Homo sapiens: one gene and its partners. The protein of the gene in region 1 purifies or fractionates together with the protein of each later gene. This does not show direct contact. Each region holds a gene or a part of one and is shown in the gene's direction. Other genes may lie near its edges. The genes, in order: GSR, GOT1, GBP2, ITM2C, MDH1, ASS1 and AGA.

Region 1 (4,174 bases):
CTGAATCACACAAATACTGCTTTTCCTTTTGTTCCCAAACAGACAGCTGTAATTTCACAATCCCATGTCATAGCCTTATCTCCTCTACTCCTGCTTTTCACTTTTACTTTATCTTATGTAAAATGTAGATTTACTGAGGCTCATAAGAACCTCACAAGAATGTAACCATCTAGGCTGGGCGTGATGGCTCACGCCAGCACTTTGGGAGGCCAAGGTGGGCAGATCACCTGAGGTCAGGAGTTCGAGACCAGCCTGGCCAACACGGTGAAACTCCGTCTCTACTAAAAATACAAAAATTAGCCGGGTGTGGTGGCACATGCTACTTGGGAGGCTGAGGCATGAGAATCACTTGAGCCCAGGAGGCAGAGGTTGCAGTGAGCCAAGATCATGCCTCTGCACTCCAGTGTGGGCAACAGAGTGAGACTCTGTCTCAAAAAAAAAAAAAAAAAAAAAAGGTGGGGGGTTGGGTAGTATTCTTTGACATTCGGAACCTCAAAAGATGGGTCCCAGGCCTAGGCATCAAAACGGGATATGTTGTGTAATCAAATTTGGAGCACAGAGTGTCTCTTTAATAGAAATAAGAGATGAGAAGCTGATGGGTAGGTTGTGGTTTGAAAAATGTGGAGTTTCTGGACACACAGTGAACTATGGGGGCAGGGGTGGGTTTGAGCAAACCAGTGACTCAGTGAAAGTAGTTTTGTGGTAAGCCATAGGATTGAGATCTCACCCTTGGCGATGCCCAATAGAAGTTTGTCTTTCTGTCTTTTTCTTTTTCTTTTCCTTTCAGTTTATAGAGATAGGGTCTCACTACATTGCCTAGGCTGGTATTGAACTCCTGGACTCAAGCAATCCTCCTGCTTTGGTCTCCGAAAGTGTTAGGATTACAGGCGTGAGCCACTGTGCACGGCAGAAGTTTAAGATTGGTTCTCCCATGAGTTCTTTCCTAAATAAAATCCATTAATTTCTAACGCTTGGGGAAGTTTTAAAGTTGTGGTGAATGAACTCACACGGAAGGTTCAAATTAGAATGTGTGTCTAGCAGTGGTCATTTACAGGTAGTGAGATTGGTTGGTTTTTCATTGTTTTATCAGTGTTCCTTCATTTAATTGTTCAACCGTTAAAGTTTATGGGAGGCCATTGTTTTGGACCAGTCTCCTGTACTAGGTCCCAGCAGACCTGGGTGTGTGTGTGTGTGTGTGTGTGTGTGTGTGTGTGTTTGTTGCTCTGTCACCCAGGCTGGAGTGCAGTGGGGTGATCTCGGCTCACTGCAACCTCCGTCTCCTGGGTTCAAGGAATTCATGTGCCTCAGCCTCGTAAGTAGCTGGGACTACAGGCGCAGGCCACCACGCCTGGCAAATTTTTTGTATTTTTAGTAGAGATGAGGTTTCACCATGTTGGCCAGGCTGATCCCGAACTCCTGACCTAAAGTGATCCACCCGCCTCAGCCTCCCAAAGTGCTGGGATTACAAGTATGAGCCACCGCGTCTGGCATGTTGTTTCATTTTTAAGAGACAGGGTCTCCCTCTGTTTCCCAGGCTGGAGGGCAGTGGTGTGATCTCAGCTCACTGTAGCCTCAAACTCCTGGGCTCAAGCGATCCTCCCACCTCAACCTCCCGACTAGCTGGTTCTGCAGGTAGATACCACTGAGCCTTGCTTGAATTCAGCATTTCAAGTCTCCAAAAGGTTAAGTATATTGCTTATCTCATGATCTCGTGTAGACTGGAGAGAAATGCAAAGATCGCCCAAAGTCAAGGTGAATTAGAGCCTTCTGGGAGCTTTGCCTCTGTGGTTCGCTTCTCTGCCTACACACGTGATGGGAGAGTCAGCTTAAGGAAAAGTTGTTTCTAAATTGCTGCTCCCTTTGCCCCAGGGCCTGGGGAACTTGCGGTCCTGGGTTCCTGCTGAGTGTACTGATTCTGTGATAAGAATAACCAGGTTCCTGTGGTTTTGGCGAGTAGTACTTACCAATGAGAGTTGGGTAGTAAGGGTTGATCATGTGACAAAAGTTCATGATTGCCAAGTCACAGTGAACTATGCTGCACAGCAGCAGTTGGAGAGGCCTAGGGGAGAGAGAGGTAGGGGCTTTGAAAGATCAGTGAACAGCAGGCTGCTCAGTGAATCATTGTTCATCTAGGCTGAAAACAATTACCCAGCAACATGTAAATCATAACCTCATTTGGAAGTGATACTGTGTACTTTGATATTATGATGTCTATACCCTGGTAAAGCTGAACACTGGACATGCTTTTTTTTTTTTTTTTTTTTTTTGAGACAGGGTCTCATTGTGTCACCCAGGCTGGAGTGCAGGGGCATGATCATAGCTCACTGCAACCTTGAACTCCCAAGCTCAAGTGACCCTCCCACCTCAGCCTCCCCAGTAGTCAGGACCACAGGCACATGGCCACCACCATGCCCTGGCTGATTTTTTAAATTTTTAGTAGAGACAAGGTCTTGCTTTGTTGCCCAGGCTGGTCTCGAACTCCTGAGCTCAAGCAGTCCTCCCACCTTAGCCTCTCAAAGTGCTGGGATTACAGGCATGAGCCACCGTGCCCAGCCTGAACATGCATTATTAAATGCAATTTACTAAAAGGAGGTCAGTTTAAAGGAACTCTGTCATCAGTTCCTGCAATATTGACAGATAGCCCTCCGAAATAGAAGGTTACCCTAATGTGTCTCCTGGGTTTAGAATTTCATAGAATGGGGCCCACCCATATTCATAAGTGACAAATAAAGGAGTGGCCATAAAGGGTGGGGCTAGTTAAAGCAAGCAAATGCTATTGTTGAAATTTGGCTTTTAACTTACCTTGTTGACTGCTTCCTTTTTTTGTACTAGTCTTCATATACTGTTGCTTTGCCATCTGCCTCAAAACCCACTAAATCTGCAGGGCTAGGAAAAGATAGACTGCCTCTGAATCCTTCAGGGTGTCTATTTCTTTGTAAAACATACTTTGAAAAGTAACCACAGAGAATGCTTTTTTTTTTTTTTGAGACAGAGTCTGGCTGTCACCCAGGCTGGAATGTAGTGGTACCATCTTGGCTCACTGTAACCTCTGCCTCCCGGGTTCAAGCGATTCTCCTGCCCAGCCTCCTGAGTAGCTGGGACTACAGGCGTGTGCCACTACACCCAGCTAATTTTTTTTTTGTAGAGACGAGGTTTCACCACGTTGGCCAGGCTGGTCTCGAACTCCTGACCTCAACCGATCCACCCACCTCGGCCTTCCAAAGTGCTGGGATTATAGAAATGAGCCACCGTGTCTGTCCAAGAATCCAAGAACTTTTTTTATAGAGGGAAACTAAAGGAATGATATGGAAATACTGATACCCTTTGGCTTTTTTTTTTTCTTCTTGACACGAAGTCTCACTCTGTCACCCTGGCTGGAGTGCAGTGGCACGATCTTGGCTCACGGCAACCTCCACCTCCCAAGTTCAAGTGATTCTCCTACCTCAGCCTCCTGAGTAGCTGGGATTACAGGTGCCCGCCACCACACCTGGCTAATTTTTTTATATTTTTAGTAGAGACTGAGTTTTGCCATGTTGGCCAAGCTGGTCTCAAACTCCTGACTTCAAGTGATCCGCCCACCTTGGCCTCCCAAAGTGCTGGGATTACAGGCCTGAACCACCATGCCCGGACCACTTTGGCATTTGTAAGTGGCTTCCAGTCAGTGAGAATTCATTACCTTCTATTCACTAGGTGTTGCAACATTAAATATTACTGCAGTTACTTTTGCACCAGCCTAATAGGATGTGGAGGTCCTAGGTCCTTTTCTTTTTGGGGGACGGGAGATGGTGGGTATCAGGTAATAGTGGGGACTGACATCCAGAAGAGTTGTCTCACAAAACTCTTTCTTCTTCTCCCCGGATGCCCGTAACAATTATTTTTATTTTTTAAATTTTTTTGTTTTTTGAGGCAGGGTCTCACTCTGTCGCCCAGGCTGGAGTGCAGTGGCACGATCATGGCTCACTGCAGCCTCAATATCCTGGGTTCAGATGATCCTCCTGCCTCAGCTTCCCAACTGGCTGAGACTACAGGCTGTTATTTGTGGTGATGGGGTCTCGCTGTGTTGTCCAGGCTCCTCTCAAACTCCTGGGCTCAAAGGATCCTCCAGTCTTGACCCGTCAAAAGTGCTAGGATTACACACCTGTGTGTGAGCCACGGCACCCAGTCACACTTTTTA
Region 2 (4,174 bases), on another chromosome or scaffold:
ATTGACTCAGACGGCCACCTCAGCTGTGAAGGTGCCTTTGTCATGTTTTCCAGGAACTCCAACTCCTTACCATGAGCAAATTATTTATGCATGTAATCTCACTGAATGCTCACAACTCTGGAGGGTGGTTTATTACTATTACTGTTTAGAGGCAAGGAAGCCGAAGACTGGAGAGGTGAAGCAATTTGCCCCAGGTCATTTGACCACTGGGTGGTAGAGCTGGGAATCCAGGCCAGGTCTCTCAGGCCTCAGAGTCTCTGCCCACACCTGTATTTCAGGTACCTCCAGGTGGTAGCCAGTACACTGTAGTGGGAAGAGCCAGGAGACCTAGGTACAGGCCCAGCACCGTGGTCCAGCCATGTGACTTGGAAGGGTTGTTTAACATCCCTGGGGCTCATCTGTTAAATGAGGAGCCAAGATTGAATGACCTCTCTCCCAAATTCTACTCTTAAGATTCTACTGGGCCAGGCATGGTGGCTCACGCCTGTAATCCCAACGCTTTGGGAGGCCGAGGCGGGCGGATCACGAGGTCAGGAGATTGAGACCATCCTGGCTAACACGGTGAAACCCCGTCTCTACTAAAAATACAAAAAAATTAGCAGGGCGTGGTGGCGGGCGCCTGCAGTCCCAGCTACACGGGAGGCTGAGGCAGGAGAATGGCGTGAACCCAGGAGGCGGAGCTTGCAGTGAGCTGAGATCGCGCCACTGCACTCCAGCCTGGGCAACAGAGTGAGACTCCGTCTCAAAAATAAATAAATAAATAAATAAATAAAAAAGATTCTACTGTACTAAAAGTCAACTCCACAATTCACTAGCACATTCTATGACTGTAGCGTAGGATAATAATTTTACTGGCCTCATCAGTTGTCTGAGGATTAAATGAATAATTATATGTGAAATGTGATATATAAATGAAAAGTGTCATATATAAGTGTTATTTTTGATCATCACTGTGACCCGTCTTTTTGTGGATAGCAGGTGTTTGGATAAGGATCTAATTAGAGTAGAATAAAAGGTCTCCTTCCAGCCGTTATATGTCCTAGTCTTATTTATACACATCCCCAAGTATACCCCTTGTGAAGAAAATGTAATTAATCATTGACCTTAGGGAAGATACTTTTTTTCCCCCAAGTTAATATAAAACCTAATGGAGGTTATCTAGTTAATGTTCCAGTGATTTTGGACACGTTTAGAATAAACTGCACCTGTAATCTCAGACAGTTCCTACTTGCAGCTAGTTTCCTCAGTTTTTCTTCTTGCTGTGATGATTTAAATAATTTCCTTATAGGTAAACAGAGGAGAGTATCACATTTTCCACTGCTAAGCACAATGCTTTCTAAGTTGATCATTTTAGTGCTTCTCAAAGCTTCAGACTGAAGTGGTTTTAAGGACATGGGAAATGGATCCAACCTGGTGCAACCTGTAGCAAGAAGTTTCTTCAAAGACTCCAGTCCATTTTTTCATGTGAGCCTAGCTTTCTTTTGGCCCAGATAAACTCTGCTAGCTTTAATATTTCTTATTTTCAACATGGTTTCCTAGCATCTTCAAATAAAATAGTTGGGAAAATATGCTTTATCAGATGTTTCTGAGTACCCCTAGCCTTCTCCCCAGTATCCTAATAGGCTCTTGAGTGGGGATAGGTGAGGGAAGTGGCGATCTTAGGAGGAAGATGAGGGTGATGGTTTGACCATTTAAATCTGTGTTCTTTCTTCCTTTCCTTCTGCAAAGCAAGACTGCTGGGCCCACCTGTAGACTGTGTGACTCCCCTAAAAGGGTTTATGTCCAGGAAGAAGAGCAGTGGGGCATGGAGCTGGGGAGCATGCTGATAAAAAGGCCCCTGACATGGTCCCAGGGGCCTGCTTGCTTCAGGCTTTCTCTAGACATCTCTTGCTTTTAAAAAAGCACATGGATCCATGAACTTAATAGTATGACAGCCTAGCTCTTGTTATCTCTGTGATCCTGGGCAAATGGTTTGACTTTTCTGGCTGCAGCAGCCAGATCCTTAAAATAGACATCACAATATCTATTTTGTGGGTTGCTATCCAAATTAAATGAGAGTAAAGAAATGTATTTAGTGCAGTACCTTGTATGTACAAAGTATTTAGTAAATCCGTGTTGTTATTTCTCTGCCCTCAGGTTCCGTCAATGTCTTTCTCCATGCCCCAGACCTCATCTCTGAATGTCAGGCCTACAGTGGACACATCCTACAACTCCCTCAAATTCAGCATGTTCAAAGCACAGCTCATCATTTCCACCTTCCCCTTGATCTTTTCTTCTATCTTCCCCTTGTGTTCTAGGTCTTGGTCGACCCCACTACCACCATCCACTCATTATCCAGACTTGAGGGAGACCTTGGAGTCAACAGCAGCCCTTTCCCCAATCCCCTGTCTTTTTATTTGGTCAATAGGTTCTGTCTTTTCTACCTCGAATCTATTTCCAATGGCACCCCTTTTCTTCATCCCTGCTGCCATTGTGTGAATTCAAGGCCTCATTATTTCGCTTCTGGAATATTGCAGTAGCTTTCTACTCCTTCTACTTCTAGTAACTCACCCTTCTTAACTACTGTCTCTGTCCTTCTCTCTGGTTTATTTTCTGTGGTGTCACTCAAATGATCCCATTAAAATGTGCAGCTGCTCATGTTACTCTCTTGCTTAAATGCTTTCAGTGGTTACCCATTGAAACTGAAGTTCCCTAAAAGAGACTCCAGGATTCTTTTAGCCACTCCCAGCTAATCCTTAGTGGATTCCACATCAGAGTCATGAAAATGCAGATCCTCAAAGACCTCATGCTCCCCAGGCCTCTGGGGCCTTGCACAGGTGTGCCCTCTCGCATGCCCTTCTTCCCTTGTTTACCTTTTAAACTCTTATTCATCTTTCATTCTTCATTCTCTGTAAAATCTTCTCTGATTCCTCAAATTAGAATTAAAGGCTCTATCTATGCTCTGTGTTTCTTGGAGGGCAGATGGGATCTTATTTTATCAATCTCTATAGCTTCTACTAGCCAGTGCCTGGCTCATGGTGAGACTTAGTAAGTACTTGTTATGTGAGCGAGTGAATGAAAGAGTGAATGAGAAACTCAAGGGTCCAACAAATAGGAATAAAAATTCTTGGGGACAGCAGGAATAGTGGTTGTTGTTAATGCCTGACCCCACTGCTCCAGTCACCCAAGAGGAATCTGGTTCTGCTTCACTAGGGCAGTTAGGAGAGGCATCAGGAACAAATCTAGAACTCAACCTGGGAAAAACTGGGCAATGGAGAAGGAAGGGGAGTTGTAAATTGGCCAGTTTTTTTTTAGTCACAGTATAGACACAATGCCTCTCCAACCATCCCCAACCCAAGTAGTAGTATTGGAATTTTAGAGTTTCACAGAGTATTCAGTAGTGGTAAGAACAGCAGTATTCCAGTCTTTTCTTTCTCTTTCATATTTTATTTATTCATAGCACATTATTTGTGAATGACATATTATCATAAATATAAACACATAGCCTAATAATGTTATAGAATAGATATAACACCCAGACACAGAACTGAAACATAACAGAACTGGTTTTTCTATAAACATCCCAAATTTTTTTGCATCTACCTAGTATCCTTTGTAGGTAGTTCAAATATGCTTTTCTTGTTCCAAGATTTCTAGAAACCCCTTTTAGACTAGCTATCAAGGCATGTAGGACCCACACAAGGGATCATTTTTTAAAATAATTGTTCTCCGTAAGTTTTACCCAGCTTATTCACTCACTCTTTTCAATGGAGATGATGCAAATGCTATTCCCGAAAAATAATTGACTTTCAAAGGACAAAGATTTGGCACTATTGAGGCTATTCAAAATAATGAGATGTTGCCTCTAGAAACAATTCCAAAAGAAGTTTCAAGAATATTTTGAACAATGGTAACGTTGTGATCATAGATATGTTGATGTGCTTTAGGGACAACTCTTACTTGGAAGTAGCTATTTTGGTACATCTTTAGAGAAGCCAGACCAAATCCCAGCTGGCGAAGGAGGCTTTTTGAACTTGTTGAGAAGTTTGGTGGACTAAGGGGTATATCATGAATGGTATGAGAGTATTGTGAGTTGGGCCAGGCATGGTGGCTCACTCCTGTAATCCCAGCACTTTGGAAGTCCGAGGCGGGAGGTTTGCTTGAGCCCAGGAGTTTGAGACCAGCCTGGGCAACA
Region 3 (4,174 bases), on another chromosome or scaffold:
TCTCTTTAATAAATCTCATTATGCTGAACATCTCATTCTATCTCAATCTCCATCTGAACTTCAAGTCTTCCCAGTTACATGTCTCGTTAGATACTCAGCCACCCAAGACTCTGTATATCCTCTATCTGACTTAATCTCCTATGCCTGTCCAAACCTTCAATGTCCTCTAGAACTCATGTTCTCACTTCTGCAACTCTCTATATTCTTATCATCTGCTCTAAGTGTTGCCTTCTAAATGATACCTAGCTATACACTATAGATACTATTTCTCCTACAGACCTCTCCAGTGGTCTTATGTGATGACTATTTTTAATCCCATACCTTGCATATCATAAGTGTAAGAGATGAGTTAGGTATCCTCCTTGCTCCATATTAGAGTTCTGGACACTTTCTCATTCCTTTACCATTAAAAAGAGAATCTTCTTTAATATATATGCCCTCAGACTACACCACTATTTTTGTTGCAATTATCTAGCAACGTTCCAATAAATACATCCTTCATTCATTAAAGATTTTAGTTCCTAGTGTCTTTTTAGAGACTAGCAACCAATAGACAATTATTTAACACCCTGGTGTCTCAGTTCCATCACCTTATTGGAACTCTCCACCCTTATTGTCATTCTCCACTCTCACACATTACTTAACCTAGTTCATTATCAATGACCTCACCATTTCCATTAGCTTAGTTTCAAGCATTATACTGAATTAGATTTCATCAAGATCACCCCCATATTCCTATATGTAATGCACAGTTCTCACCTCATTTGATCTTCCAATCTTCCATAAGCCTTTTATTTCTCTAGGAGCATTACATAAATTTGATCCCTTCCACCTTTCTGAAATGCCTGTTTCACTTGGAATTGGTTCCTATTAGAATACCACATTTCCTAATTTTCCACCTTCCTTATTGGTAGACTTTTTCAGATTACTCTATCCTCTTTCTCCTTTTAGCCTCTAAATATTATAACACTTAAGTTCTTGTGCCTCTTTTCTTTTTCTGCTTTCAGTCCCCAGATGATCACATCCAGCTTCAAGGCTTTCAGTAGCACCAATATGTTTATCACCATCAAATCTGTATTCCCAAGCATGAGCAAATTCAAACTTTTGTATCCAGCTTCTGGTGCAACATCTCCATTCAGATGTGTAAGAGACATCTTGAGCCTAAAGTGTACAGAACAAAACTTAATTTTCCTGTCCAAAACAACTCCTTCCCAGTCTTTCTAATCACAATAAATTCCCACATCATTCATAGAAGTGCTCAGATCAAAAACTTAGGAATCATCTTGGATGATTCCATTCCTTATGTTTTGGAAATTATTAATCATCAAACTCCTTCAGCTCCACTATCAAAGTTATTTCTCTAGACTAGCCAATTCTCACTACTTGCTCCATTGCCTCTCATCTTGGTTATCTTTTCAACTACCTAATTGCTTTTTGTATTAGTTTTGTTTGTTTGTTTGTTTTGGCATACACACTTGACTCACAGATGCAATGCCAGCCAGTATGATTTAAAAAACAAAAAACGATACTATATCCTCTCTTCACTTAATACCCACCAATGACTTCCCATTAACTTTCTATTAAATTTCAAACTTCTTACTTTGGTTTACAGAGCTTGCATATCCCAACCTCTATTTATTTTAAGGCTTCTGCCCTACCACACTGGATTTCTTGATATATGTTGTACACACTCAGTAATTTCCTATCTAAGGGCCTTGAAGGGTCTGTGATCTCTGTCTGCAATGTTCCTCCATTGGATTTGTACATGACTGGTTTCTTCAATTCATTCAGATCACTGCTCAACTACAATGTCAGAGATAATTTACCTGGAAAACTACATGAACCAGCACCACATGCAGATACACACAATTATTCTCTGCTTTCCTTATTGGTAGATTTGGGAGACACCAGAGTATTAGATGAATGTCTATTGGTTGCTAGTTTCTAAAAATACATTAGGAGCTAGTTGCCCAGTTCGTTTTCCTTCAAGACAATTGTTATCAATACCTGATAATTTATTTTTGTTTACCTGTTCATTGTTTGTCTCCATCATTAGAATGTAAGCTCTATAGTGGTAGCATTGTCTCATTCATTACAGCGTTCTTAGTCCCTAGGGCAGTGCTTGGTTCATAGTAGGTGCTCAATAAATGTTTGTGAGTGAATGAATTCTGTAAATAAATGTTTGTGAATGAATGAATGAGCTAATAAAAAGAAACCAAATTATTTTAGGTAAGCATTAGGATAAAATGTAGTATAAAGAGTGGCATTTTCTGTAGTTTTCTTAATTTAGCATCTCAGCTATGTGACAGAGCTGACAGATCGAATCAAGGCAAACTCCTCACCTGGTAACAATTCTGTAGACGACTCAGCTGACTTTGTGAGCTTTTTTCCAGCATTTGTGTGGACTCTCAGAGATTTCACCCTGGAACTGGAAGTAGATGGAGAACCCATCACTGCTGATGACTACTTGGAGCTTTCGCTAAAGCTAAGAAAAGGTTACTGGGTCTGATGCTTGGTTGGGTAATAAATAGAGAGCAAATAATATCAAAATAACCATTTCTGTGCAGTGCTAAAAATTATAATTTTTAACTGTATTTTTCTGACTGTTCTGCTAGAGGAAATGGAAACATTGCTTGACTATATCAGTTGGAACCAATTTTAAATTGCATTACCTACCTCTTCTTGGAGACTTTCCTTTCTCTACCCCTTTAATTTTTTATTTCTTCTTCCTAATAAATTTCCTCCTTACATGGGCTTTGTGAAAATTATAAAATTGAAAGATCATATTTGAAGTAATTAATTTGAAGTTTTACTACTTCTAATTTTCATTCCTGTAGGTACTGATAAGAAAAGTAAAAGCTTTAATGATCCTCGGTTGTGCATCCGAAAGTTCTTCCCCAAGAGGAAGTGCTTCGTCTTCGATTGGCCCGCTCCTAAGAAGTACCTTGCTCACCTAGAGCAGCTAAAGGAGGAAGAGCTGAACCCTGATTTCATAGAACAAGTTGCAGAATTTTGTTCCTACATCCTCAGCCATTCCAATGTCAAGACTCTTTCAGGTGGCATTCCAGTCAATGGGCCTCGTGAGTCACTCTCTCTACCCACTTCCTACCTGGACTTTCTCCTTCTGCCCATTGTAGAGGATAAAATGGAAAGCATAAGGGTCACTTCTGACAAATGCATAGTCTATTGATGGCAAGGAAAATACAACATGAAAATCATATTATAAATTTTACATGAAAACTAAAGCTATAGTATCATCTCATATTCCTTGCAAGGAGAATAAAAAAAGAAAAGAACTAGAATTGAATTCTATTATGGTAAACTTCTCCACCAACTTCTCAGCTCCCTCTTTATCAAATAAACATCCAGGATATATATACTGAGCAACAAAGAAAAAAGCAAATACTATATGTAAGTGAGACTTTGCCACTAACTAACTGCAGTACAATTCTCTTGTTCAGCAATTCTAAAATATTTAGGGAATGCCTATAATGTAATGTACCAACCACTGAGTATAATGATGGATAAAAGAAATGTGACTTTTATCCTCATTCCAGCATAATAGGAGCAAAAGATACTTCTGTAAAAAGTAAAAAAAAAAAAAAGTATAATGATAAATAGTGGTTAACACAATGCATAAAAATAATAGGCTGCTATGAAAGAGTAAAGGGAGAGGCAGGGAGATATAATTTAGAGTGTGAGAGAATGCTTGTCTGTGAAAGTCACCTGTAAGATGAGAACTTAAAAATGATTGAGTTGGCTGGGCACGGTGGCTAATGCCTATAATCCCAGAACTTTGGGGGGCTGAGGTGGGTGAATCACTTTGAGCTCAGGAGTTTGAGACCAGCCTGGGCAACATGGGGAAACCCTTCCTCTACTAAAAACACAAAAATTAATCAGGCATGGTGGCTAACACCTGTAATCCCAGCTACTCAGCTGGCTGAGTCTGAAGGATCACTTGAGCCTGGGAGGCAGAGGTTGCAGTGAGCGGAGACTGCACCACCGCACTCCAGCCTGGGAGACAGAGTGAGACCCTGTCTCCAATATATATATATATTAAATAAATGGTTAAGAGCTAACCAAAGCATATAGAGGAATAGCTTTATAGCAAATAATGTAATGTGGAAATGCATAGGGCAGGATAGAACTTTGCAACTTCAAGAAAATAGAACAC
Region 4 (3,077 bases), on another chromosome or scaffold:
TTCTCCCCACACCCCAATTCGTTGTGTGGACACCTCCCAGCAGCCCCTGGGTCTGTGCCCTGGGACAGTATTCGGGGTGTCCAGCCACTGTGGGATGCAGCCCCGGAGCCTCACCTTCCCTGGGCTCTCATCCCCGCACAGCCCACAGGAGCCCCCCATGCTGCGATGACGCATCCTCCCTGGAGAACTTGCACTGAATCAAACAGACGGTGGAATCCTGCCGATCCCAGGCCAGGCAGTCCCAAGCATGTATCTACAGGCCCCTCCAGGAGCCCCCTCCAGAAGTAAGAGTGGGCAGACTGGCCCGCCCGGCCATTCAGTTGATGGGATCACACCAGGCTGCCTGGCCTCCCTTACTGATGGAGTGACTGGACTGGCCCACCAGACACAGTGTCTGTCAAGGTTTCTCCAAGACAGGGGTCAGGGATATCCAGGAAGGGCGATGGCACTTGTCCGAGGCTGGATGTGGAGGTAACCGTGATAGGGGCACAAGACTCTTAACAGTGTTGCCTCCAGCTCCACCTCCCCACCCGCCGTGTTAGGCCCCTCCAGGTCTGCAGGCCAGGACAGCAGGTGACAGGAAAGGCAGTCGTGCACAGGCGTAGGTGCCCAACTCTTAGGTTCGTCCTTGACCCCCTGCCAACCCCAGGCTCTTTCTCTGGTGTCTGCACCTCTGTGGAGGGCACGGAGGTGGCCAGGTCCTAGTCCTGCTGGGCCACCCCTTTTCCCAGTCACCGACTCAAGGACTTGGAGGCCAGAAGGGACCTTAGGGATCATCATGCTTTACTGATGGGGAAACTGAGGCCCAGAGAGGTCTGCCACCTAGAACCTGGCAGACCCAGCTCATCCTCCCTTCCGTTTGTGAAGCTGGGAAGCGCCTTGCCCAAGAATCAGCTCATCTCCTCACTGGCAGCCCCAGACCCTGACCTGATGCCCCACCGTCTCAGTTTCTCCATCTGCGAAATGGGTCTCACAGTCCCTGCTCTTCTTGCTTCCGCAGGCTTTTGGGGCATGTAGCGGACGGGTAGGCAAGAGGGGGCCTTACGGAGTGCGTGTATGACCAGCCTCTCTGACTGTCTGTCTGTCTCTCCGCCTTGCTCAGCTGGCCCGAGATAACTTCTTCCGCTGTGGTGTGCTGTATGAGGACTCCCTGTCCTCCCAGGTCCGGACTCAGATGGAGCTGGAAGAGGATGTGAAAATCTACCTCGACGAGAACTACGAGCGCATCAACGTGCCTGTGCCCCAGTTTGGCGGCGGTGACCCTGCAGACATCATCCATGACTTCCAGCGGGTGAGGCTGGCCAGGGCCTGGGGGTGGGGGGTGGGAGGGTGTCCCGGGGACTCAGGGCAAGGGGAGCAGGGATGAAAGGAGACTCCTCGGAGTACAGCAGGTGTCTACGGTTAGGCTTACCAGGGTCTTCAAGACACTGCTTTTCTCCTGTTAGCAACAATGGTTCTTGCTGAGTATGAAGCAGCCGAGGCTGATTTTCTCCTCAGCCTCCTGCCAGCTGCACGCTGGCTGTCATGGCAGGGCCAGTGCGTTGTATCGAGGGGTAGTACATTCACCATCGAGTGCATTGCGTGTACAGCTCAGCGGGTCTCTGCAGAGTGGGTCTCATGCGTATTCATGTAACCCCCATGGGTCCTGAGACAGGGCATCTCTCGCTGGGGTCCAGGCTGTCCCAGGAATGGCTGGCCCTCACAGGTTTCATAAATGCACAGCTGGGATGTTACCATGTTCCCCAAACCTCAGCTCTGTAAACATGAGAAGAAGCTTTATAACAACAGAGGCGTTTAGCAATCAGCTGCTATTTTCCTCTATCATGTGGCACCTTCTACAACAGGCTAAGAGAAGACCAGGAAAAGGGAGTGCCCGCCCAGGTATTGAGGAGTCTGGAGAGGACTCTGCTCCTGAAGGCCCAGGGTCCCAGGAAGGCATGGTGGGACTCCTGCCCCTGCTGGCCAAGCTGCTTTTTTTTTTGGAGACAGAGTCTCGCTCTGTCGCCCAGGCTGGAGTGCAGTGGCACGATCTCGGCTCACTGCAAGCTCCGCCTCCTGGGTTCACACCATTCTCCCGCCTCAGCCCCCCGAGTAGCTGGGACTACAGGTGCCCACCACCACGCCTGGCAAATTTTTTGTATTTTTAGTAGAGACGGGGTTTCACCATGTTAGTCAGGATGGTCTCGATCTCCTGACCTTTGATCCGCCCGCCTCAGCCTCCCAAAGTGCTGGGATTACAGGCATGAGCCACCGCGCCTGGCTGGCCAAAGCTTCTTGCAGCCCTGCCTGGGTCAGCTGTCACCTCCTGCAGAGACTGACCCAACCCCTTCTCCTGCCAGGGTCTGACTGCGTACCATGATATCTCCCTGGACAAGTGCTATGTCATCGAACTCAACACCACCATTGTGCTGCCCCCTCGCAACTTCTGGGAGCTCCTCATGAACGTGAAGGTGCGCAGGGGGTTGGGGGGATGTCTGCAGCATCCTGTCCCTCCCTTGCCCCCTGTCTCATGGAGGCTAGGTCTGAGGTACAGGAAGTTCCTGTGTCAGGGGTTGGGGGAGCAAGAGACATTGCTGGCACCTGGGCCCTGTACCCAGATTGGTCTCGCCTCTGCTATCCCCCTGCTTCCACATCTCCAGAGTCAATGCCCCGAGACCGGCTTCCTTAGTGTTCAAGGTTGTACCCTGGGTACGGACTCGTGCGCATGCCATTGCTCCTGGCAGCACAGGTGCAGGCACCGGGCACAGGCAGGAAGTGCCTGAGGACATCAGAAGGGCCAGCCCAGGGGCCTCTGGAGGAGGGAGGTGGGCTGGCATTTCGGGCGAGGGGTTGGACGAAAGCCTGAGGGGCCGACTCACTGTGGCGGCCACCTTGTTTTGCAGAGGGGGACCTACCTGCCGCAGACGTACATCATCCAGGAGGAGATGGTGGTCACGGAGCATGTCAGTGACAAGGAGGCCCTGGGGTCCTTCATCTACCACCTGTGCAACGGGAAAGACACCTACCGGCTCCGGCGCCGGGCAACGCGGAGGCGTGAGTGGCTGGCTTCACCCACAGTAGCCCCTGTCCCGTGCCCC
Region 5 (4,174 bases), on another chromosome or scaffold:
TAACTGAATAAATTAGTATGAAGACCAGTCGAGTCATTGCAGACATTTTAGGTAATGGCCTTTTTTTTCATCTTTATCCTTTTCGGTTGGTTGGTTGGGGTTTTTTTTTTTTTTTTTTTTTGCTTTTTATTTTGAAATAATTTTAGACTCAAAAGTCGCAAAAAAATAGTACAGAGAAGGCCCATGTACCCATCACCCATTGATGGTACCTTACATAACTACAGAGTATTATCAAAACCAGGAAGTTGATGAACTACACAATACTATTAACTAGACTTACTGAAGTTTCACCAGTTTTATATTCACTTATTTTTTTCTGTGTCTTTATGAATGATTCTATGACATTTAATTACAAGTGTAGATTCCTGTAACTGCCCCCATAGTCAAGGTACAGAATTTCTTCATCACTCACAAAAGAACTCCTTCATACTCTCCCTTATGGTCACACCACCCTCTGTCCCTGACATCATTTTTCTGCACTCCACCTCTATAATTTTGTCATTTTGAGAATTTACAAAAGTGGAATCATGCAGTAAGGAACCTTTTGAGACTGGCTCTTTTTCACTCAGTTTAATGCCTTTAAGATCCATCCAGGTTGTTGTTTGTTTCTTTTTGTTGTTTTTCCACTTACCCCTTTTATTTATTCCATTGCCTATGTAAGACATAATACAGTTTATTTAACCGTTCTTTTTTTTTTTTTTTTTTTTTTTTTTTTTTTTTTTTTTTTTTTGAGACAGAGTCTCGCCCTGTCGCCTAGGCTGGAGTGCAATGGCACGATCTCGGCTCACTGCAACCTCCGCCTCCCAGGTTCAAGAGATTCTCCTGCCTCAGCCTCCTGAGTAGCTGGGATTACAGGCACACGCTGCCACACCCAGCTAATTTTTGTATTTTTAGTAGAGACGGGGCTTCACCGTGTTGGCCATGATGGTCTCCATCTCGACCTCCTGATCCTCCCACCTCGGCCTCCCAAAGTGCTGGGATTATAGGTGTGAGCCACCGCGCCTGGCATATTTAACCATTCTTGAACGACATTTGAGTTGTTTCAGTTTGGAGCTGTTATTACCCTTATTTTAAAATTTTCCTTAAAATATCAAAGTGTATTCCTTTTCTTACATGGTAAATACTCAAATGCTTTATTTATGTGTGCTAAAGCTACAGACTCTGGCACAACTAGTTTCTTCTCCCATTCTTTTTGGGACACAGAGGAAGGAAGAATTGCCCACAATGTCACCAAAACAGATCAGCTTCTTAAAATATTTTTCCACATTCCCTTCTGGTTCATCATAAATTCTGTTGTCTAGTTAGGAACAAATTATACATATACCTGATCATAATTTATTTTCTGCACATAAACTTATCAGACAAATAACAAGCAGGCTGATTTTATTTAAATCTACCAAGACATTTCTTTTTTTTTTTTTTTTTTTTTTGAGACAGTCTCGCTGCATCGCCCATGCTGGAGTGCAGTGGTGCGATCTTGGCTCACCGCAACCTCCGCCTCCCAGGTTCAAGCGATTCTCCTGCCTCAGCCTCCCAAGTAGCTGGGATTACAGACATGTGCCACCAAGCCCGGCTAACTTTGTATTTTTAGTAGAGACAGGGTTTCTCCATGTTGGTCAGGCTGGTCTCGAACTGTCAACCTCAGGTGATCTGCCCGCCTTGGCCTCCCAAAGTGCTGGGATTACAGGCGTAAGCCACCATGCCCAGCCCAAGACATAACTTTCTAACCTTTTTTGTGGCTACTGTACTACATGTGATTGCAAGGCATTGCAGGACCCTAAAGTGCTTTCTGGAGTTATAGCTAGAGATTGTTACATATGTTATAATTTTAGAGTGTATATATGTGTGTACACACACACACATACACATATATAAAACCTCTTTCCTTCAGTTTCCTGATATATAAAATGAGGACAGTCATATCTTGGTAATTTGAGTCCTATCCAACTCTAAAATTTCATATTTAGGGTTATTTGAAAATTAATTTCTATATGGTATATAATAAAAATTTTACCTAAATATAAAGTGCCTAAATACCTGATTACTCAGAAGCACTGAGAAGACATCTCCAAGTAAACATTAACAGTGAAACAAAAGATCACATTTACATATTCAAGAAATAGTAAATTGATAAATAATAGTAACGATTAATGTTTTATGTTTGATACACCTACTGTACTAATAAGTTAACCACAAACTATGGGATGCTTCATACCCTTAAACATTCTACTCCATAAGGTTTCAAGTCCACAGTTGTTACCACTGTTAAGCTGTTGTAGGAAATTGCCAAGCAATAAATTTACATTTTTTACAAGTCAATATAACTCTTGTGTTCTCTTGAAATTTCAGAAGCTTTTTATCTTTATTTAAGGGCATTTGTCAAAACAGGTCCCAATTGGAAATAAAAACCATTTGTCTCAGTAATGTATTTGTTTTCAATTTAACTAGATTGCTCTTAAACTTGGTGTGACTGCTAATGATGTAAAGAATGTCATTATCTGGGGAAACCATTCCTCGACTCAGTATCCAGATGTCAACCATGCCAAGGTGAAATTGCAAGGAAAGGAAGTTGGTGTTTATGAAGCTCTGAAAGATGACAGCTGGCTCAAGGGAGAATTTGTCACGGTAAGAAAAATCTGTGAGCCTTCTTAACACTGAGCGTAAAGAACTCTTGAGAGACTCTTAGGACAGAAAACCTTAAAGAGGGCAGGTCTTTCACAGTTGCTCTGATGACTGCATACTTTCGGGATCATAGTAAGCCAGTCATGATCTAGTGTGATCTGATGTGACAGCAGTTGAGATTTATACCAAGATCCATGTCTTTGTCTGACCTATGATAAACTTTGTATGGAGATACATAGTTTCCTTTTTCCAGAAGGATTGGTAAGGCTGACATTGGGTTGTTGCATGATTTTGGAGGGGAAACATTAAGCTCTGGTCATAGCTTTTCACCCCAAGGTCGACTTGGAATTAATGAAAACTTTGCTATCATGACCAAGTAATACTGCTGCCTTCACCTGCCCCCTTCCCAGACTGTGCAGCAGCGTGGCGCTGCTGTCATCAAGGCTCGAAAACTATCCAGTGCCATGTCTGCTGCAAAAGCCATCTGTGACCACGTCAGGGACATCTGGTTTGGAACCCCAGAGGTAAGGATTTAGTGATTTGCACAGGTCACTCTATTTTATTTTTGTTGCCTGATGATATAATATAAAAAGAATATAGCCTTAGCAGTCAGTCAGGTTAGGTTCATTTCTCAGCTCAGCTGCCTATTAACAAGTAAACTTCGGGGTTTGTTAGCCTTGACCTTTCTGAGCTGTTTTGTCATCTTTTACATGACATTACTATTATACACAGGGTTGTGAGGGTTAAAGGAGATTGCACATGGAAAACACCTGGCACAATGCCTGATACATAGTAGGGGTGAATTTTTTTCTTCTATGCCACAGCTTCCTCATCTGTAAAATGAGGATTAGGTTTCCCTGGCCTACTTCACATATGATATGGAAGCGTGGAATGAAATAATATCCATGAAAGTTACCTTGTCACCAGTACCTGGTGCTGATGATAGTTCCTTACACAGTAATGATGTTATGAACATAGTAAGAAAGGGTCACCTGGTTTAATTTTATTAGTTCATGTGTCAGTTGTGTAAACTAATCATCATGAGTATGTGAAACATTGTTATTTTCAGGGAGAGTTTGTGTCCATGGGTGTTATCTCTGATGGCAACTCCTATGGTGTTCCTGATGATCTGCTCTACTCATTCCCTGTTGTAATCAAGGTAAGGTATTTTGGAGCTATTTCCCTTCTTTGAGGAAGTAGTTATATGTTTCTCTTAAGAATGGTATTATTGGCCAGGCACAGTGGCTCACGCCTATAATCCCAACACTTTGGAAGGGCAAGGTGGCAAGATTGCTTGAGCCCAGGAGTTCAAGACCAGCCGGGGCAACATAGTGAGACCCCCTCTCTGCAAAAATAAAATAATTAGCCGGGCATGGTGGCACACATCTGTGGTCCTAGGTTCTTGAGAGGCTGAGGTAGGAGGATCACTTGAGCTTAGGAGATCAAGGCTGCAGTGAACCATGACAGTACCCCTCCACCAGGCAACAGAACGGGACCCTGTCCCCCAAAAAAGAAAACAGAATGTTATCACTTAATCTAGAAAATTGTTCCT
Region 6 (4,858 bases), on another chromosome or scaffold:
GGGTGCTGCTGGCAGTTTGGGCCCCTGTTTTCTTCTCAGGAGCGCTGTGACCTCACTGTCCCTCATGTCACTGGTGCATGTGAGTTAGGAAGGGTCTGTCCCCTAGGCTGGAACCATTTCTGCGGCAAGGAGTAAAGGTCCCAGCAGCCTGTGACCCTGGGACTGTGACCTCAGTTCAGCTCAGGCTGGAGCTAAAGCAGAGGGTTTGAGCCAGAGCTTCAGACACTGGATTCTAGCTCCGCTCTGCCACTCACATGCTGTGTGGCCTTGGGAAAGATACACCGTCATTCTGTGCAGCAGGTTTCTGCCCATACCATTGAGATAACAATCACAGGTACTTCATACAGGGTAGTCGTGAAGGTGAAAACAGAATGCTTGCTCTTTCCAGGGCGACCCTACCAATGAGAAAACAGGCTGCAGTGGGGAGTGACCGCCCCAAGGACACACAACTGCTGCAAGGGTGTCATTGTGTAGGTGTTCCTCACTTGCCTCCTGCTAGTGTGGGAGGCCCAGAGACTCCACGAGACCCCCAGCTGCTCCTGTGAGAGGGCTGAGGGGGGCCAGCTGTGATACCGCCTCCCATCTAGAAGGGGCCTCAAGCCACCCATGTACACCCAGCCCCACGTGGCTCACCAGGGGCCCCTTTGCCATCAAGGGCCACATCCCAGGTTTAAGTGTCAGAGAACTAAGGGGCTTAAGAGAGAATCGAGCTGTGGCTTTGTTTGTGAATTGGTTTGATCCTTTTTTCCTTCTAGAAGGACTCACAGCTACTGTTGCTTGCCATGGGCTTGAGGGGGTGGTGGGGGCTGACTGGCAGAGGGGCTGAGAGTGGATGGTGATTAAAAGGAGCACTGACTCCAGGGTAGCGGCTGGGCAAGGCTTGGGGCTCCCACCTCCCCCAGGTTCAGAGCCGGCTGAGGACCGGGAGTCCTCCCTTCTGGGGTCAGTGCTCACTATGGAGCAACTGCCTTGGATGGGGTCCCAGGACTTGCTCTTTTACTGGGGCTGTGGTTGCAGTGATCAGGGCTTTGGAGCCGGCAGACCAAGCTGGGAAACTCCTGAGGTAGAGAAGCTGTTGAAGGCGGGCCTGGGGTCACAACTCCCAGCTGCTTTTTACAAGCAAGAGACTTCTCTCTGAACCTCAACCTTCCCTCCTGTCTAGTGGGTTCGCAGCCAGACAGTCTTTTACTCACTGCTTACTGGGTGCCCTCTGGAGTCTGGGCAGGTGCCAGGCTCTGAGAAGACAGGCCAGCAATCAGCCCTGGCCTAAGGGATGAAAGCCGGGCCTTCCCGCGCCGGCTCACCTCGGTTTTCTCATCCTTACTCGGCTACCAGAGGCTATGGTTGGGGAGGGAGGGGGCTCTGGGGGCTGCAGAAGGCCCAGGCTGCCGGCACCGGATAGAAGTGAGCACGAAGCTCCCTGCGCCAGTGGAACTTTTATCCCGGCTCCCACCGCGAAGCGTTTAAATTGCTTCCCCAGGGCCAGGAGGCAAGTCTCTCGAAGGACGGCTGCGGCCACCCTCCGCCCCTGAGTTACATGGGTCGCAGCCACTGCCGCCCTCCTTGGCGCCTCCAGCCCGCGGGCCAGGGCCAGGAACCGCGAGCCGCCTGCGCCCCCGCCGGCGCGCCCCTGGGAGGGTGAGCCGGCGCCGGGCCCAGGCCCGGACCTGGTGGGAGGCGGGGGGAGGTGGGGACGAGGCCTGGGGAGGCGGGCCCCGCCCATCTGCAGGTGGCTGTGAACGCTGAGCGGCTCCAGGCGGGGGCCGGGCCCGGGGGCGGGGTCTGTGGCGCGCGTCCCCGCCACGTGTCCCCGGTCACCGGCCCTGCCCCCGGGCCCTGTGCTTATAACCTGGGATGGGCACCCCTGCCAGTCCTGCTCTGCCGCCTGCCACCGCTGCCCGAGCCCGGTAAGGAGCCCTCGGCCCCTCTCGCTGCCCACTCCCTAGCCGAGAGCACCCGCTTCCCGGGCCCAGAGGAGGAGGCGTAGAAGACGCCCGCCCCGGGGCCCGCGGAGGCAGAGGGCGGACCCCGATCGCCACTCGCCGGGGACTGGGACCGAGGCAGGAGGGAAGGGGCTCCCGATGCTCAAACGCCTGGCACCGGATTCCAGGTTTCTGGAGCGTGGGGGACGCGGCGGGGGCGCGAGTCCCCGGGGGCGCGAGTCCCCGGGTCCGAAGAGCGGCTCGGGTTATTTGTTCCCTGCGCAGCCGGGTCCTTTCTGGACTCCTTGTCGGATCCGGCTTCCTCTGTGTCGTGAAGCCCCCACATGGAGACCTGGGGAGTCCGGAGCGTGTGGGGGGGCTCCCGATTCTCTCTCCCTCTCTCGGACTCGCCGTCTGTCTCCACCTCTATTTCTCTGCGTAAAACCAGGAGTCCAGCCCCTCTGGGGCTTGGACGTATCGCTTTCCCCGCAGCCTCAGTTTACCCTGGACAGATGGGCATGGTGGCCCTGGCTCCCTTCCCTGCAGGGGGCGGCAGCCACCTGGCCCTCCCCGGTGGGGCTGGCGGCCTCGCGGCGGGGTTTCCTGCTGGCCTGGGCTGGGCTCTGTGGGAGGGGCAGTGCCAGGAATATTTTCTATTCGGGCTGCTGTTGCCTTTGGCCCCTGGGCGGCTGCGCCCTCCAGGGAGGCAGGGTCATTGTGAAAGAGAGGAAACTCCTCTCCCAGGCGGCCAGGGCTGTTCCTGAGGAGGGCTGGCCTGGCCTCAGTATTCTTCTCTGAGAAGTGGAGAGTCCACTCCCGAGCAGCCGAGTCAGGCTGCAGGTCTCAGGGCAGGAACAGACCTGTTCTCTCCCCAGGGGTAGATCAAGACCTAGGGGACTTGGGCTTTGATCCTCCCGCTCCCAGCAAGCACAAACCCAGTGATGGGGAGAGCTGGTGAGGCCTTGGCTCAGCCTCCAGATTCCCAAGCTTCCTTTTCATTTTCTTTTCTTTCTAAAAATTTATCAGAGATGTGGACTCGTCATGTTGCCCAGGCTGGCCTCGAGCTCCTGGGCTCAAGCGACCCTCCTCCCTCGGGCCTCCTAAACTGCTAGGATTACAGGCTCGAGCCACCCAAAGTGCCTGGCCCCCAAGCTTCAGTCTGTTAGAGCTGGCTGGGGCTGAGGGCTCAGGAAACATTTGCAGATACTGTGCGGCTGCTAAGGGCTCTGTAGACTGTTGGGTGCTGGGCCTGGGTCCAATTGCACAATAACTGTGCCTGGGGTTAGGTTCTGATGAGAGGGAGGGAGAAGCAGCCACACGGACTGGGAAGCTTGGCTAGGAGCAGGAACTGGAGGAGTCTCCATTCCAAACTCCCTCTCCCTCCCAGACCCCTTAGGCCCAAGGCCTAGGGCGGGGAAGTTTGGGGGTGGGGGCGGGACCCTGTCCTGGCGGGGCCATCTGTGCACCATGCTGAGAAGTAATTCTGGTTCTGCTCTGTGGGGGTGGATCAAGTGAATGAATAGTGACTCCTGCCTGCTGAGCGCCTGGCCGGTGCGGGGGCAGACACGTCGTGAGAGGGAAGGGGAGGCCCCACTCTCAGCACAGTCTCCATTCCTGAGTGCTTGGGAAGCAGGCCCAGGGCCGCAGGAGCCTTGGGGTGGAGCCAGGCCCAAAACAGCCTGCTGCACAAGCGCTTCCCCCTCCCAACCCGGGCCCATCTCATCTTTGGCCTGCTGGGAGGCCAGCCAGGTCAACCAGATGCCTCATCTGAGCACTGACTACACAGTCCCTGAAGTCAGTGGCTTGCCTGTGGGCACCAGGCACCCATGTGGAAAGAGGTAACTTCGCTGGAATTCAGAGTCTAAGGCTCTGATTTCTGATGTAGCTTTGGGCAAAGTTGATCTTCCAGGGCGTGGCTCCCTCCCCAGACTTGGGGTCGACCAGGCACCCATAGGCACTTTGATATGAGTGGAACGAATGAATGAATGTGCCCTTCGTCCATCACCAAAGACAAACCGAGCTCAGCTGAGTTAGAATGTCAGCGAGGGGTTGCAGGGGAATCTTCCACGGGGCAGTAGGCCTGAGCTATAGCACACAGGCTCTCCAGAGAAATAGTGGGCAGGTTGGCCATGACTCACTGGGGGGCTGGTTTTCTGGAAGGTGTGTAGAGTGAAGGGGAGATCTGAGGTCTCCTAGGAGCCAGGGAGTGGAAGGCCTAGTGCAGGGAAGAGCAAGTGGCCTGCAGTCAGGCTGGGTTTGAAGCCGCTAGCTTGTGACCTCGGCTGGCCGCTTAGCCTCTGCCTCCTCCTTTGTAAATAGGTGGTAATGGCAGTCTCCACCTTGAGAGGATGCACCTGTGACTGTGAACATAGTAGCCGCTCTTGTTGTCATTCCAGCTCTGACGTTTTCAAGTAGCACGAGTTTTCCTTAGTGTCAAGTGAGCGCCCAGGCTGGCCTGTTTGCTGGAAGCTGGACAGATGGCTGTGGCTGGGGCCACAGAGAATGCCATCCCAATGAAAGCCAGGTGGCTCTGGTACCTTGACGCGAGGCCACCTTCCCTCCTCCCAGGTGTCTCTTCCGGGGAAGGAGGGCTGGAGGGCAGTGGGCATTTGCCAGGGAGCTGGAGAAACCTGCCGTGGCCCTTTCTGGGGGATGTGGTGGGGGTGGAGCTGGGACTAGGGGAGGCTGAATTCAGCCAGGATCTGCCTGCCAGGCGCAGCTCCCAGGAAGAAAGCCCAATGTCTGGGAGGGTCAGAACCCAGAGGGCTGTCAGGTTGTACAGATGAGGAAATTGAGGCTTAGCAAGCCAGGAACTTGGCTGAGGTCAGCCATAGCAGCGGTGCACAGAGCTTAGTGGGCACATACATGCTTGGTGCCCAGCTCTGGGCTCCTTCCCCCAGCATCTCACCCAATCCTTACAGTCGCCCTGTGGGGAG
Region 7 (4,778 bases), on another chromosome or scaffold:
ACCAATTTTCCATGTATTGTATTTTACAATTTTTGCTAAAGGCATGTCCTAATTCCTTAAGGCTGCATAAAAATACTCAGCCCAGGAGCTAAGGAAAATTTACTCAGAGGACAATGTATGTTTTTCTGGCTTTCTTACCCTGTTTCACCCAAGTTTCCAGTTTCACCTGCCATTGGGTTATGATTACTCCAGCACAGATGACTTGTTCCTCTTCCAAACCCCATGAAAGGAACTTAGAAAATTTGTCTTTATTATATCTTTTAATTAACACTTCCCCAACGGGATAATGATACTTCTGGGCTATCTTATGTTCTTTAAATTATGTATTTAATTTCCTAGCAATCAATAAGAGCCTTGAAGGTTTTGTAAGTCTCACAACTCCTACCTAGTTTATATTTTTACATTTATTTATTTATTTATTTTTGAGACAGAATCTCACTCTGTTGTCCAGGCTGGAGTGAAGTGGTGCGATCTCGGCTCACCACAATCTCCACCTCCCGGCTTCAAGCAATTCTGCCTCAGCCTCCCAAGTAGTTGGGACTACAGGCATGCACCACCACGCCCGGCTAATTTTTGTATTTTTAGTAGAGACGGGTTTCACTATGTTGGCCAGGCTGGTCTCGAACTCCTGACCTCGTGATCCACCCACCTCAGCATCCCAAAGTGTTGGGATTACAGGCGTGAGCCATCGTGCCCAGCCTAGTTCATATTTTTAAAGTTTGTATAGATTTATAGATGCTTTTAAAAATTATGTGATTATGTGTCTTGCCTTGGCAACCTGGGCAGGCATTCCAGACACCCAAAGGGATTATTAGTTCATGTTCGCACGTCTGCCCAGCAACAAAACTGAGCAGCCTCCACCAAGCACGTAAAATCCCCATTCCTCCTCTTATTCATTTATTTAGCACTTAATAGTGCCAGGCAGGAAGGTAAAAATACATTTAAAAAGGAATGGAGGTAGCCGTCTTGCCCTGGAGGTGCAGGAAGCTGCACTTCAGTGTGCTAGGTAGAGGGTACATAGGCCGTTTCTGTTTTTCTTCCAGCTCAGGGATTTATAATGAGAGGAAGTGCTACAAAAAGCTGTGGTGCGAAAATGACGGACGCTATGAATGGAAAAAAAATCTAAAATCAATCCGGTCCTAAGCAAACACGCTTCACCTACACTCATAACTATTGCAGACCTCCGAGGCCTGGGATCCCCAAGAATATACTGAGTTTGACAAACTTTTCAACTTCAACTTTAAATTAAAAAGACAGTAAAAGAACCAAATCCATAGTACACAGCAATCGGCTAAAGTTCCTGGGGCCCTGCAACCCAGAGTTGAATAATTTTGTATTAAATTCCCAATATCAAGCTAAATCTATTTTAACCACAGGAAAAGCAGCAACTTGTCTGGCTATTTTAAAAATCTGAACAGCACTTAGGAAGAAGCACCTTAGCGCAGGGAACAGCTCAGTGCCCCGTGACACAACTCTCCCGCGGGCCCAGGGACGCCTCGTCTCGCGAGAGTTGAGGGACGCCTGAGCGAACCCCCGAGAGAGCGGGCGTGGGCGCCAGGCGGGCGGGGCACTGGGGATTAATTGTTCGGCGATCGCTGGCTGCCGGGACTTTTCTCGCGCTGGTCTCTTCGGTGGTCAGGGATGGCGCGGAAGTCGAACTTGCCTGTGCTTCTCGTGCCGTTTCTGCTCTGCCAGGCCCTAGTGCGCTGCTCCAGCCCTCTGCCCCTGGTCGTCAACACTTGGCCCTTTAAGAATGCAACCGAAGCAGGTGCGGGTTGGCGGCCTGGGCGGGCGGCTGCGCCGCGAGAGCTTGCGGGTGGGGATGACTAGCCCGCCCCGCTGCAGTCACCCGGCAGGGCGGACGGAAGAGCGCCGGGCTGGGCCGGGCCTCGCGGTCCCGCCCTCTAGGTCTTCCCGAGTCTCCAGCGCCGCTCAGTCTCTTGCAAGTGGCCTTTACTGCATCCTCCCCACCTACCGCTGTTGCATTTTAGGTCCTCCCTTCATGCAGCCCCCAGCGCAATGTATTTTCCACCCTGCTGCTGACCATAGTTATGGCCTTTGTGCTTTAATCAAGTAGCAGCTACGCTTTTCTGCCTGACAGTCTTTTCACGGGCTGTGTACGTCTCCACCTCTCGTTTCTAATCCTTCACTTCTTTGCAATTTTGTAGACGACTAATAGTGTCCCAGCCATAGCCTACTCTTTTCCCATTTACTTTTTTTGCCACGTGTTGTCATACTTTACCTGCCACTTAGAATTCAAGGTTCCAACCTTTGCTGTACATTCACACTATCTGGGGAGCTTCTCAAAAATCATCCTGCCGGGGCCCACCTCCTGTGACTGTGATCTAACTGCTGGAATCAGGGCCACTGTTTTTCTTTAAAAAGCTCCCTAGGTGATTTCGATTTGCAGACAGGGTTGAGAACCACTAAGCTAAGGTATCACCTCTTCCAGGAAGCGTTCCCTGACTTAACTGCCCTCGTGTCCAGAATGAGTTAGGTTCCTGCCTTCTACACCTTGTTAATAGCCTTTACGTACCATTATCTTGGCATTTTCGCATTGTACTATGCTTGTTTCTTTCATTTGCTTAATGACCAGAAGAGTCATTTTCAGACCCCTCCTCCTCCATCTGAGGTTGCTAACGTATTAACTTTCTAGGGCAGAATTGGCTCCAGAATTTGGTGGCAGTGCATACGATTCAGAGAAAATGAAGAAGCAGGCTGTGAGAAAGATATTCCCAGCCATAATGAGACGAAAAGAAATTGCATCAGCCTGGGCGGGGGACAGTTCTGTGTTTAAGTTGCCTGTATTGAAAGAGGGAACTTGCGTAAATACACTTTCAAGCCTGTAGGTGCTGTAGTGTTTACCAACCAGAGCACCCACTCTTCAAGGAATTCTGTTGTTACCAGAAAAGAAATTGTCCATCAAAGACCCTTCCCCCCACACCCCCAAATGTATGGGATCCTGGCTCTGCTACTTACCAGCTGTGTGACCTTAAACTAACTGCCTGACCTGTGGCTCTGTTTACTTTTCTTTAAAATGAGGGTCGTGATTGTACAGTACCTACCACAGAAGCTGTTATGAAGACTCAATGAACTAATCCATATGAAGTCCACGTTGTAATTGTTTGCTGTTCAGTATTATTAAGACTTCCTGGGATAGGTGTTACCTCAATACACATATCAATTATGCATATTTTAATCTAATGATGCAGAAGAAATGTGTGAAGAAGGCTGCGGTTTAGTGGATTTTTTATTTAACTGCCTTTTAGTGGTTTCGATTGTACCTTTTAAAATAAAGGAGGGGATACTGATTTCGTTTCTCGCACACAGAAGAGATAGATATTAGTAAGTGAAAAAAAAAAAAACCTTCAGCTTGCACCAATAGCCAGTTTTTTGAGTTCTTCTGATAACTAGTTAAATAATTTTGACTCTTCACTGACTCCTTTGTAACACTTGATAAACTAATGTGTTAAAAAATCAGCTTAACTCAGTAAATGTGAAAAAGTTGTTAAATTGGAGTTGGTTTGTTGCATTTGGCATTGAAAAAAAAATATATATATAAACAAGCATTATTGGGATTTGATTAACAGCGTGGAGGGCATTAGCATCTGGAGGCTCTGCCCTGGATGCAGTGGAGAGCGGCTGTGCCATGTGTGAGAGAGAGCAGTGTGACGGCTCTGTAGGCTTTGGAGGAAGTCCTGATGAACTTGGAGAAACCACACTAGATGCCATGATCATGGATGGGTAAGAACACCGTTCAGGTCCTATTTATTATGTTGAGTTACATTTAGAGTTGTGGTCTTCTGAGAGCAAGATGAAAGAATGCATGAGTTTTGACACAGATCAAAACCCCTAGCTTATTATACTTGACCTTTCTAAACACAGTTTCCCTCTCAACTGAAAAAAAAAAATCAGAGTAATAGAAATATCACATGGAGAGATAGGTAGTCCCTTAGAACTGGGAGAATGCCAAGCTAAAAAACTATGTCTCTGACCTTATAAACAATCATTTATCTGCTGTCCACAAATGCTGTGGTTTGCCTGACCTGAAGCCTTCAGGCCCCTTTCAAAAGCCATATTTAAAATTAGCTTGGAGAAACTGAGAATTTTAGTGCTGTTGTGGTACATGGCAAGTTGATTTTCTATTTTTTTTCCTTAATTTTGTCTGATTGTGGGAATCTATATGAACTTCGTGGATGTGCTGTCACTTCTGTGTTAAGATGGTGGAGTTTAACCGCAAAACACTATTGATTGGAGAAAAGCAATGTTTTTAATCTATGAACCTCTGAAAACTCCTTAATTCCTAACTGCATTCTATTTTCTTGCAGCACTACTATGGATGTAGGAGCAGTAGGAGATCTCAGACGAATTAAAAATGCTATTGGTGTGGCACGGAAAGTACTGGAACATACAACACACACACTTTTAGTAGGAGAGTCAGGTATTTTTTTAACTACACTGAAATTTTTTCTAGTCTTTTGACTATAGTTTTCACTGAAAAATAGTACAAAATCATGGATAAAACCAGATCTAAGTTCAAATTCCAGCTGTTTTACTTAACATCTATTGAACTGGATAAGTAACTTTTAAATCTCTTTACTTCTTCATCTCTAAGAAGAAGGCAATGGAAGTTTTGAGACGGAGTTTCGCTCTTGTCACCCAGGCTGGAGTGCAATGGCGCGATCTCAGCTCCCGACAACCTCTGCCTCCTGGGTTCAAGTGATTCTCCTACCTCAGCCTTCCAAGTAGCTGGGATTACAGGCACGTGCCACCATGCC

What was found.
Region 2: the proteins of GSR (region 1) and GOT1 fractionate together in Homo sapiens (co-fractionation; one large-scale study listed by BioGRID). This does not show direct contact.
Region 3: the proteins of GSR (region 1) and GBP2 fractionate together in Homo sapiens (co-fractionation; one large-scale study listed by BioGRID). This does not show direct contact.
Region 4: the proteins of GSR (region 1) and ITM2C purify together in Homo sapiens (co-immunoprecipitation; one large-scale study listed by IntAct). This does not show direct contact.
Region 5: the proteins of GSR (region 1) and MDH1 fractionate together in Homo sapiens (co-fractionation; one large-scale study listed by BioGRID). This does not show direct contact.
Region 6: the proteins of GSR (region 1) and ASS1 fractionate together in Homo sapiens (co-fractionation; one large-scale study listed by BioGRID). This does not show direct contact.
Region 7: the proteins of GSR (region 1) and AGA fractionate together in Homo sapiens (co-fractionation; one large-scale study listed by BioGRID). This does not show direct contact.

The regions. Positions count from the first base shown.
Region 1 is NC_000008.11:30,720,825-30,724,998, reverse strand, and holds part of GSR (glutathione reductase, mitochondrial isoform 1 precursor), read left to right. Parts: intron 1-4,174. UniProt on the Homo sapiens protein: Catalyzes the reduction of glutathione disulfide (GSSG) to reduced glutathione (GSH). Constitutes the major mechanism to maintain a high GSH:GSSG ratio in the cytosol.
Region 2 is NC_000010.11:99,423,857-99,428,030, reverse strand, and holds part of GOT1 (aspartate aminotransferase, cytoplasmic), read left to right. Parts: intron 1-4,174. UniProt on the Homo sapiens protein: Biosynthesis of L-glutamate from L-aspartate or L-cysteine. Important regulator of levels of glutamate, the major excitatory neurotransmitter of the vertebrate central nervous system. Acts as a scavenger of glutamate in brain neuroprotection.
Region 3 is NC_000001.11:89,115,898-89,120,071, reverse strand, and holds part of GBP2 (guanylate-binding protein 2), read left to right. Parts: exon of another isoform or gene 1-1,161; intron 1,162-2,029; exon of another isoform or gene 2,030-2,294; intron 2,295-2,298; coding exon 2,299-2,495; intron 2,496-2,837; coding exon 2,838-3,080; intron 3,081-4,174.
Region 4 is NC_000002.12:230,874,518-230,877,594, forward strand, and holds part of ITM2C (integral membrane protein 2C), read left to right. Parts: intron 1-1,102; coding exon 1,103-1,291; intron 1,292-2,339; coding exon 2,340-2,450; intron 2,451-2,882; coding exon 2,883-3,033; intron 3,034-3,077. UniProt on the Homo sapiens protein: Negative regulator of amyloid-beta peptide production. May inhibit the processing of APP by blocking its access to alpha- and beta-secretase.
Region 5 is NC_000002.12:63,602,248-63,606,421, forward strand, and holds part of MDH1 (malate dehydrogenase, cytoplasmic), read left to right. Parts: intron 1-2,448; coding exon 2,449-2,625; intron 2,626-3,032; coding exon 3,033-3,146; intron 3,147-3,691; coding exon 3,692-3,781; intron 3,782-4,174. UniProt on the Homo sapiens protein: Catalyzes the reduction of aromatic alpha-keto acids in the presence of NADH. Plays essential roles in the malate-aspartate shuttle and the tricarboxylic acid cycle, important in mitochondrial NADH supply for oxidative phosphorylation.
Region 6 is NC_000009.12:130,443,089-130,447,946, forward strand, and holds the start of ASS1 (argininosuccinate synthase), read left to right. Parts: upstream 1-1,872; 5' UTR 1,873-1,907; intron 1,908-4,858. UniProt on the Homo sapiens protein: One of the enzymes of the urea cycle, the metabolic pathway transforming neurotoxic amonia produced by protein catabolism into inocuous urea in the liver of ureotelic animals.
Region 7 is NC_000004.12:177,439,239-177,444,016, reverse strand, and holds the start of AGA (N(4)-(beta-N-acetylglucosaminyl)-L-asparaginase isoform 1 preproprotein), read left to right. Parts: upstream 1-1,579; 5' UTR 1,580-1,641; coding exon 1,642-1,768; intron 1,769-3,590; coding exon 3,591-3,744; intron 3,745-4,328; coding exon 4,329-4,441; intron 4,442-4,778. UniProt on the Homo sapiens protein: Cleaves the GlcNAc-Asn bond which joins oligosaccharides to the peptide of asparagine-linked glycoproteins.